Regions from separate parts of the Homo sapiens genome. Here region 2 is reported to be linked to region 1. The links are microRNA targets in miRTarBase. Many come from high-throughput screens and were not tested one by one. Region 1 holds a microRNA gene; the other region holds the end of a gene's coding sequence.

The links. The annotated mature microRNA hsa-miR-4298 reads CUGGGACAGGAGGAGGAGGCAG and lies in region 1 at 2,505-2,526, shown strand. An mRNA with a match to its seed (bases 2 to 7 or 8) in the 3' UTR can be bound and repressed. Matches are read on the target gene's strand: a 7mer-m8 pairs with bases 2 to 8, a 7mer-A1 pairs with bases 2 to 7 and ends in A, and an 8mer does both.
Region 2: miRTarBase lists FBXW7 as a target of hsa-miR-4298. Seed matches in the 3' UTR shown: 8mer at 3,932-3,939.

The regions. Positions count from the first base shown.
Region 1 is chr11:1,856,956-1,862,030 of GRCh38, reverse strand. MIR4298 (microRNA 4298) reads left to right here and starts at 2,495; the gene lies at 2,495-2,567. All of the region lies in intron 1 of LSP1 (lymphocyte specific protein 1), which reads right to left.
Region 2 is chr4:152,318,198-152,323,267 of GRCh38, forward strand. It overlaps FBXW7 (F-box and WD repeat domain containing 7), which reads right to left. Exons shown (of 14, transcript NM_001349798.2): 14 at 2,347-4,952. The coding sequence ends at 4,684. Among named protein-coding and RNA genes, the nearest start is that of FBXW7-AS1, 17 kb to the right of the region's middle.

The DNA of each region.
Region 1 (5,075 bases):
CCATCCATCCATCCACTCATCCATCCATCCACCCATCCATTCACCCATCCATCTATTCATCCATCCATCTATCCATCCACCCATCCATCCACTCATCAATCCATCCATCCATCCATCCATCCATCCGTTCACCCATCCATCTATTCATCCATCTATCCATCCACCCATCCATCCATCCACTCATCAATCCATCCATCCATCCATCCATTCACCCATCCATCTATTCATCCATCCATCTATCCATCCACCCATCCATCCATCCACCCATCCACTCATCCACTCATCCACCAATCCATCCATCCATCCATCCATCCATCCATCCATCCATCCATCCACCCACCCATCCACCCATCCACCCATCTATCCATCCATCCATCCATTCACTTATCCATCTATTCACCTATCCATCCATCCATTTACCCATCCATTCATCCATCCATCCAACCATTCATCTATTTATCTATCCATTATCCATCTATCCATCCATTCATCCATGCATCTATCCATCCACCCATCCATCCATCCACCCATCTATCCATCCATCCATTCATTCATCCATCTGTCTATCCATCTGTCTCTCCATCCTTCCATATATTTATTCAATAAATCTGTACTGAATTCAGACACTTTGAAGGTGCTGGGGATTCAGCATTAACAAAGTCCCTGCTCTTATGATGATCATGTTTCAAGTGTGGGAACAAACACATAAATAAATAAAGGTCAGATGATGGAAAATATGACAGAAAATATAAATCAGGGTAAAGGCATATGGAGTTCTGGAGGGGATTGATATTTTACGTATGATAGCCTCATGGAAATAAGTAATTCTTTCCTTGGGTCTTTATATATGAAAGCCTCATGGAAAGAAGTAATTCTTTTCTTATTTGAAAAGAGATGAGAGAAATGGGAGGAAGTGTTCCTGGAAGAGAGTGCAAAATTCCTGATTTAGTAGTGTCTACTCACACATCCGTCTTTCTAATAGTTTACTCAGCACGGATTCAATTGTCTATTGATTCATTATCTATCTATCTTTCTACTCATCTCTTGTTATATCCACCCACGTATCCATCTATTCATCTATTATCCATATCCATCCATATGTCTACTTCTCCTGACATCCTTCTATTAATCTTTCCAATCATTTATATGTCCATATTCCAGCCATCCAATCATCCACCCATACATAATTCCATCTCATGTGTCCTTCCATCAATACATTCATTTACCCATTTATACACCCATTCATCCATCATCCATTCATCCATAAATCCACTCATCTTTTGTTTTGGTACATTTGCTCATTTAGCTGTTGGGCTGATGATCAGCCAATATGCACAGGTACAACACAGTTCAATATAGGAATATATATAATCAGCACCCATTCCAGTAGATTCATATTTGTACCACATGCTTTGTTAAATATTCTAAATATCACATCTGCATTTATCTATCCACCCATCCATTCGTTCTTTCATCCAAACATCCATATATACATACAGATGTTCTTCTGTCCATCCATCTATTTTTTGTTCATCTGCTCATTTGTTCATCCATTCATCAATTACTAAATAATTCTTTCTATTTATGCATGAGTTATACTCTATTTATACATGAGTCCATCCAACCCATTCATTCATCCACCCCATCCATCTGCCCATCCATTCACCCACCTGTCCATCGATCCATGCACCTATCCATCCACTCATCCCTCCATCCATCCACCCATCCATCCATCATTCAATTATCCATCCATCCATCATTCAATTATCCATCCATCCATCCATCCATTTGTTCCTACTTCCTATCATTCTTCATTCATCTTTCCATTCATTCATACTGTTCTCCATAATTGATTCTTTTCTAATCTTTATTTTTCCTTTCTTATGCAACTAAGACATGGTTCATAAGCTCATGGCCCAAGGATAAAGCAGACCACCATGGCCCAGGAGGCTGAACACCTCAATAGAGCCTAAGCAGGGGCTACAGGGGCAGGGATCTGTCTTCATATTGACACATTCTCATCATCCCCGACACATACCTGCGAATGTATGTTCACAGAGCAGCATCCCAGTGAAAGGTGCTTTGAGCACTGAGAGAGCCCATGGGGACAGGGGAGGTCAGGGTGGTGGCCTCATTGGCTCCCGAGTGATCCCTGGTGGATAAATGTCTGTGATTTAAAGAGGAGGCAGCCTCCAAATGCTTGCAGCATGCATCTGTTCAGTGTGGCCCTCTGTTCAAGCAGGCACTGCTGACAGCAGGAGAATGGGCCAGAGCCACGGGTAGGGGGCAGGGTGGTGGGTCATGGGTGCTGGGGGCTGGGGGCTGGGGGCTGGGGGCTGGAGGCTGGGTGGTGAATGGTGGGTGCTGGGTGGTGGTGATGAAGCTCAGATTTTGGTTGGGACTGGGTCTAAGAGAAAGGCTAAAGGATTATTTCTAGATTCATCTGGAACGAATTGGCTAGATCCTTCTATCCCAAGTCCCATTGCTTTTCTGAGGGGAGGTACCTGGGACAGGAGGAGGAGGCAGCCTTGCCTCAGAAACCAAACTGTCAAAAGTGTAGGTTCCACTCAGGAAGGAGGAGCACAGGCACTTTTGAGATGAGGGGGACGTGCTCTTCTCTGGAGCAGAAAGAAGCAGTAGGTGAGGTCCCACCTGCCAGGGATGGAGCAGGAGAGTGACCCCTGCATAACCTTGAATCCTCATCTGCAGCCCATGAGCAGCTGGAGACTGGGGACTCTGGGAAGGGTACTGGGCTTAGAAGCCACCCCCTGCCCCAGTGGACAGAGTATCCTGGACACCTCAGCCACTCTCCCTGAGCGTGTGGTGTGTGTAGAGGCCCCTGCGTCTATACCACTGCTCCCAGGGAAACTGGGAACCCAGGAAGTATGCTGGAACCCTTCATGCTGTGACCTACAAATGCCCCACCAGAGCGGCCCTGCTCCAAGCACTGAGGTCAGGGGCCCATGTGCCTGCCTCCTCCTGCCGGGGGATACAGGGGACTCAGAGGCCCTCCCTGCCACAAACTCCCTTCCCCGACAACCCACAAGCAGCTTGGAGGCAGTTAGCAGATGGAGTTAGGATAGGACTTGCCTGGCCCCAAGAAAGGGCCAGGGGCTTTCCTCCTGCCACCCCTGCTCAGCATCTCCCTCCTCCCTTGTCTGCCTGTGTCTGGCACTGGTGGGGCCGTGCTGGGTGGGACACGGCTAGGAGGCCTGGCTTTCTCAATCCCCTAATCTCCTATCAACCCCACCCCCATGCAGCCCCTCCAACCTCTTTTCAGGTCCCTAGATGTTGGGGAGGGGATGGGGGCTGGGCCGGCTGTAGAGAGTCTAACCCTGGGGAAGGGGCCCTGCTGGGCTGCCCCCTGGCCGAGCCTCTCCAGCCCGCTCGCTTCCCTCTCTTCTAAGTATCAATACAGCCTCGTCCACAGCCAGGGCCTGGTTCTGTCTGCCTCAGCGCATGTGGAAAGCCCTCTTCGATTGCCTTATGGTCCTGGGCTGCCATCTCCCAGAAGGTCTTTAGTGGCCCCCAAAAAGATGCTGAGGGCTGGGATTTGGGCGGGGCTGGGCTGGAGGGAAGTGGAGGACCTTGCTGGTCCTGCAGCGCCCGGTCCCAGTTCCGCTTTTCGGGACGGTCCCTTTAAGTGCTTGCTGAGCTTGGGCCATGAGCAGTGCTCTGGTGCTCTTGGGAGCCTTTGAGTCCAGAGTGGCTGGTGTGTGGTGTGGGGTCAGAGAGACCCCGGGAAGGGCAGCCCAGCCCAGCTCCCTCCTGGTGCCCGCAGGTCTTGTGGGCCCTCAGCACCCGAACCCCACAGGGGCAAGGACTCAGGCCCCTCCCCAGGCAGGGAGCAGCCCTTGGACAATGCACTTGGCCCCTGTGAGCCTCGGTTTCCGTCTGTGAAATGGGAGGCTCCAGGGACCTGCCTCACAGCTCCGGGGGATGAAACAAGAGCCTTGGTTTAAAAAGCTTGGCAAAGGCAGGGCGCGGTGGTTCATGCTTGTAATCCCAGGACTTTGGGAGGCTGGGGCGGGTGGATCACCTGAGGTCAGGAGTTCAAGACCAGCCTGGCCAACATGGTGAAAGCCTCTTCTCTACTAAAAATACAAAAATTAGCCGGGGGCAGTGGCAGGTGCCTGTAATCCCAGCTACTCAGGAGGCTGAGGTGGGAGAATCTCTTGAACCTGGAGGGCGGAGGTTCCAGTGAGCCGAGATTGTGTCACTGCACTACAGTCTGGGCAACAGAGCGAGACTCTGTCTCAAATAAATAAATAAATAGCTTGGCAAAGACTGGCATGGAGTGAACGCTTGGTCTGAGTGGCTACATTCTGAGTGTGCAGATGGGGAAACTGAGGCTTCAGAGGGGTGCGGCTTACTCATCCAGAAAGCACTCCGAGGGCCTATAGCAGCCGAAGCAAGGCCAGCCCTGGGGCCTTGCAGCCCATCCCCCTCCCGCCGCCCCAGCAGTGGGATCTCAGGGGCTGGGACTGCAAGGCAGAGCTCACGCCCCCACCCCTCACCAGGCTGAGGACTCAGAGCGGGAGACCACTGGGCCCTTTCCACTGCCAACACCCTCCTCTTCTCTAGGGCTCACCCATCCCTCTGGCACGTTCTCAGGGAACTGAGGTGGAGACAGGCTGGCCCGTAGGGTAGCGGAGCAGAGGCCCACCATCCTGCCACCCCAGGGTGTCACCGGCCAGGGCCTGTCCCAGCTGGACCCCAGACCCTCCTGGCACTGCCCTTGTGTGGCTCCAGGATTGTTTTAGGAGACACGAGGGAACCAGGAAGGGGGCGCAGGAAGAAAGGATTCTGGCTTCCAGAATCAGCGGGGGTGGGGCCTGTGATGCTCCCACTTGTGCGACCAGCCCAGCTGGGTGTCGGTGGACAGCAGCGCCTGCCAGCCCACGAGGAAGAAGACATCCTTCTGCTTCCCTGGGAAACTTCCAGATGCCTCAGACCCCTTACCCAGGGCAGGAGGAAGGGGACCTCCCCAGGGATCCTGGGTCCAGACATCAGGTCTTGACCACAGGAAGGTGTAGGGAGGGAGCCCCAGGGCTTAGCCCTCAATCCTAACCTCC
Region 2 (5,070 bases), not on the chromosome of region 1:
ATGTGAATCTATTTCTGCTATGCAAAGCAACGGAGCTTCATGTTTCTGGTTTCAACATGGAATAGAGGGAGTTACAGGGGCAAGGACAGTGGTGAGTAGGCGCCTCTGAGATGTCTTCTCTCCTTCACCTCCGTACCTTTGTTTCACAGTGTGCAACGTGTATCTCAGGGAGAAGTGTACAGAAAACCAGGGCTCAGCTGGGTCTGGGGAAGCTGCCCTTGATCCCCATTTCACTTTAGGGAAGAGAAAAGCAAAGAGGTCTTTTGTAGCCTCTAATCAATTCAGGGAAATGGAAGAGTTTACAACAGACTAGCTCAAAGCTGGTAGAGAAAATGGCTTAAAGCAGTTAATACAAATAACTAAATGTCAATTACTTTTCTGAAATGAAACAAGGCTGGTTGAAACATTTACTTACCATTTGGTAGGCATTAGCTTTTGCAACCTAATGAAATAGCTGTGGTAATTGAATCTCAATAAGGGGGTTTCAAAGTGTCAAAATTATAAACAATTCTAATATAAAATAATGAGATAATCAACTCTGCTCAGTTCAACAAGTATACTAAGTACCTGCTACTGGCTTTTATGGGTTACTTTTGTGTCCTAATTTCAGCCTTAGTTTCAGGCAATGTTTGATATTTGGGAACTTGTAACATCTAAATATGAAGTGTGCCTATATCTGTTATGAAGATTTTAAAATGTACAGTTACATGAGGTGGTAAAGTTTTTCATTAAAAAGGCCACAAAATGGAGTTTTCTTAGTGACCTTTTTACAACAATTATACTTTGATTCCTGTAGAAGGATGCTAACATTTTCCCTTCAAGCAAAGATTTATTGTAATAAAGATTATTCATTTATTCATAAAATGATGTTTAATGAACACCTAAACACAGTCATCCCTCCATTATTTGTGGGTTCTGCATCCACAGATCTAACCAAACGAGAATCAAAAATATTTGAAAAGGGTGGCTATGTCTGTATCGAACATGTACAGACTTTTTCCCTTGTCATGATTCCCTAAACAATACAGTATAATAACTATTTACATAGCATTTACATTGTCTTAGGTATTATAAGTAATCTAGGTATGATTTAAAGCATACGGGAGGGCTTGTATATGTTACATGCAAATACTATGCCATTTTATATCAGTGACTTGAGCATCCATGAATTTTGATATCCATGGGGGTGAGGTTGGGGAGATCCTAAAACCAATCCCGCCCAAATACTGAAGGATGACTGTATATACAAAACCACTGTTAGGTGCTCAATATCAGTCTGTCTCACAAGGTTTCTGTAAAACTCAAATGAGAATCTAGATGGCTCCACGTAAAAGAATGGACTGCTGTGTGTGTGTGTGCACACGTGTGTATGTGTATGCTATTTTTATTACATAATCTGAGTAACAAATACATTCAATTCTCTAATATAGAAAGTTATCTGGGTCTATTTACTTAAAATTTTTAATAGAAGCTACCATTTACTGAGCTCTAAATGCCATCGGTATGCAATGTGCTTTACGTTTCACCTAATCTTTATAATAACCTTAGGAGATGGGTATCCTCTACATCTTAAATGAGGAAACACGAGGTCAAGAAACATGATAAAGGTCCCAGTAACTAGACCATACTAGAACTGAGATGAATTCAGGGCTATTTGTCTGCAAAGCCTGTGAACTCATTCTATTCTCTAAAGTTCTAAAAATGGATGTTTCTCTTCAATTATATTCTAGTTAAGCCTCATTTATATGCTCTTATGAAAAATCAAGCAGTTTCAAGAACTATCAAATAGAATTACAACTTTTTCTTGACAATTCACAGTCATCAATGTGAACAGTAGTCACGGTTTGGGCAGTAACGTGGTTTACTCTAAAGACCCTGCACTTCACGGCCTAGTAGGATTTTTGCCTTGCATTCAACCAGGTAGTTTTTTGTTTTTTTCCTTTACCCTGTCACTTTTCCTTGCTATTTTTGTGTCTGTAATTTGCTGTGGACTAATAAACCAAATAACCAAATGTACAGGAATGGTATCTAAAGCAATGGTTCTGAAACTTTAGTATCCACAACTCACCTGGTGAGCTAGTTTAAATGCAGGTTCTTGGGTCACACTCCCAGGTGTTCTGATTTAGTAGCTTTGGGAGAATGAGGCCCAGGATTTGCCCTATGAGTAAAGAACACATACTTTATGACTATGAGAAAAAGGGGAGTCCATTTTCAGTAGCTTTTATATTTTCATCTACGGCCTGGTTAGTTGAGATTACTGGATGTGTGTATATATATATGTGTGTGTATATATATATATATATATATATATCTCCTGCTATTTGAGATACTAAATATATTTAGAACTAGTTTCAAAAACAACTTTATTTTTTCCCCTTACATCATAAAATTTAGATTTTATAAAATTTAGATTTGTTGAACAAAACGGCTACAGAACAGTCAGAAAGTACCAGAAAAATGGCTTATTTCCCTCTCAAACCTTGCTTTAGTCTGTCAAACTTTCTTAAAGAGCAGCATGTATTTAGTCTTTGGAAATATGGGTTTGAGTTCTGGCATTCCGCTAGTTCTATGATTTGACAAATTGCCTAACCAGTCTCAGCTGCAGATTTTTGCTCGTCTTTAAGATGGGAGATAATAGTGCCTACTTCTCAGGGATAGTGGGAGCTTAAGAGAGAATGAACAGAAAGTATCGAGGGTAAGCACTTAATATGTGGTCAAAATTTCAAAATGAATTTGTTATTTATAAGGCTTCTAGTTGTAATTATCACAAAAGTTTTGTGGATTCTTTGAGGGAACCAGATTTCATATTTATACACCCCAATGCAATCTACAGAGATGAGCACAGTGGAGTGTCCTCCTTCATAGTCTAGGAGAGAAATAAAATTTGCAGTTGCAGCACATTATCCTTACTTTCGCGGTATAAAACAGGCTTGAAGTATTGATTTCTATGTCACACAGCAGGATGCAAAGAAACCAAGATTTTGCTTATTTAAATATTATAGACAAATCCTAAATACTTATAATGAAGGATTATTACTTCAGTGGAAGAAACAGGCATACTAACATGAAAAAACACATTTTATTGCACTTAAGTTATAAGAAAATAAAATTTCTAAGTGAATCAAACCATAGACACAATCCCTTTAAAGGTTGTTTTCCTCCATCATGTCAGGTTGTTACATAACTAAAATTAACCAACTTGAATCTGATTGTTTTAAATCAGACTATAAATAAAACAAACAAAAAAATAAACAGAAGGAGGAAAAAAGATCGCCTAGGATACAGTGTTAAACCACTTTCACAGTTCAGCTTGAGTTGTGGCTCTTGGAGAATGAGGCAAACCATTTGACTGTTTCATTCATTTTGTTTGTTTGCATGTGACGCCTTTACTACAAAAACTGAATAGTTTCTGCTTTGTCAGTTACTCAGAGCAATAAAACTGTAACAGTTGTTTTCCCAAATACTGTAAAACACTAAGACTGACCAGCAACTTTATTTTAATTTTGTGTTTTATATATTTTTAAAATATTTTGTCAGTTTTACGATGTACGTTCATCCATTCACCACAGCCCTCAAAAAGAAAAGTTTCTCCACAGAACAGGCAAGTAATAGCTCTGTTCCAAGGAATGTGTTTTAATTTTTGCCCAGATAAAAGAAAATAAGCTTTGCACACACTCTCAATTCTTTACTTGCAGGCAAACTTCACTCTTTATTATCTGAAACTCTTCCATTCTCAGCCTCTTAGAGGCACAGATGGCTCAAGTTTCAGTGGCAAAAAGTCTTTTTTCCATAACCAAACTAGAGCAAATTTGGAATTCAGTCTGGGACTAAAACGTCACAGCAGAAAAAAAATAAAAAAAAATAATTTGCTTTTTTCTTTCTTTCATTTAGCAGCATAAATAAGTTTGGCCACTGGGAGTACAGTACAGGGTTGGGACAACAATCCCATATTTGAAGACCTACTTCTAGCACCAGCATCAAGAATTAAATCCATCTCAGGACTCACAGAACCCAGGACAACTTGCCACCTTTGAGCAACATATGCATTGAAGAATGTATATGGAAGCAACAGTAAATAGATTAACAGAGGCTAATACTGTGATTGATTGACATTGGCAATGGTTGGCAAAAAAAAAAAAAAAAAAGCTTTTCATGATAACTGTACAAAAACAATTCACAGTAATTTTTTTAAGCTTTTCCACTCCAGAAAAATGACTTTTTGTTGCAGATGCTCTCTAATTAGAAAGTCAACCAGTACTTGTTTTGATATTATTGCAGTTCCTTTCTAGGTGTCTAGCTGTCAGTGGTAAAAGAACAGGCTAGCAGAATCTGTAATGATGTTTCAGCATTAACACTGCCCAATGACCACTGGAGAAGAAAATAAAGAAATAATTGCACCTGGTTTGATTTAGAAAGTCTCATTTTGCAAAGCTGCCCTCAGTCAAAAGTGAAGCCTTTTATGTGATGAGACAGCAGACGCCTCTCTTGTCAGTTATGGTTTGTCATCTCTTCTTCTTTTCCTTCTTAGTCTGTAGGTCTTTTCAATCTGTTGCCCCAAGCCAACATCCTGCACCACTGAGAACAAGGGATTTTTTTCTTTTTCTTTTCTTTTTTTCTTTTTGCAGGGGGAAGGGCAGGGAGTATATCGTCTACACAATTGGACAAATTCATCTTTTCTGCTCTTCACTTCATGTCCACATCAAAGTCCAGCACCAGCAGCTTGGTTTCTTCAGTCCCATTCCGACTCCCAACTGCACACACCAGCTTTGTGTTTGAGGCTCTGATCCGCCACACAACTCCCCCACTCCCCCCACTCTCCAATGTGACTAGGTTTCGAATAAATTCACCCGTTTTCAAGTCCCATAGTTTTACAGTTCCATCATCTGAGCTGGTAATTACAAAGTTCTTGTTGAACTGTAAACAGGTCACAGCACTCTGATGCTTGTTGGGACCTAGACAAAAACCAAAAGAATTTAATTACTGGTTAGAAATAATGGCTATGAGTTAGTTACATTATAATTTGTAGACTTCTACTTTAGAACATACAATAAATGCAACATTTGAAATGAT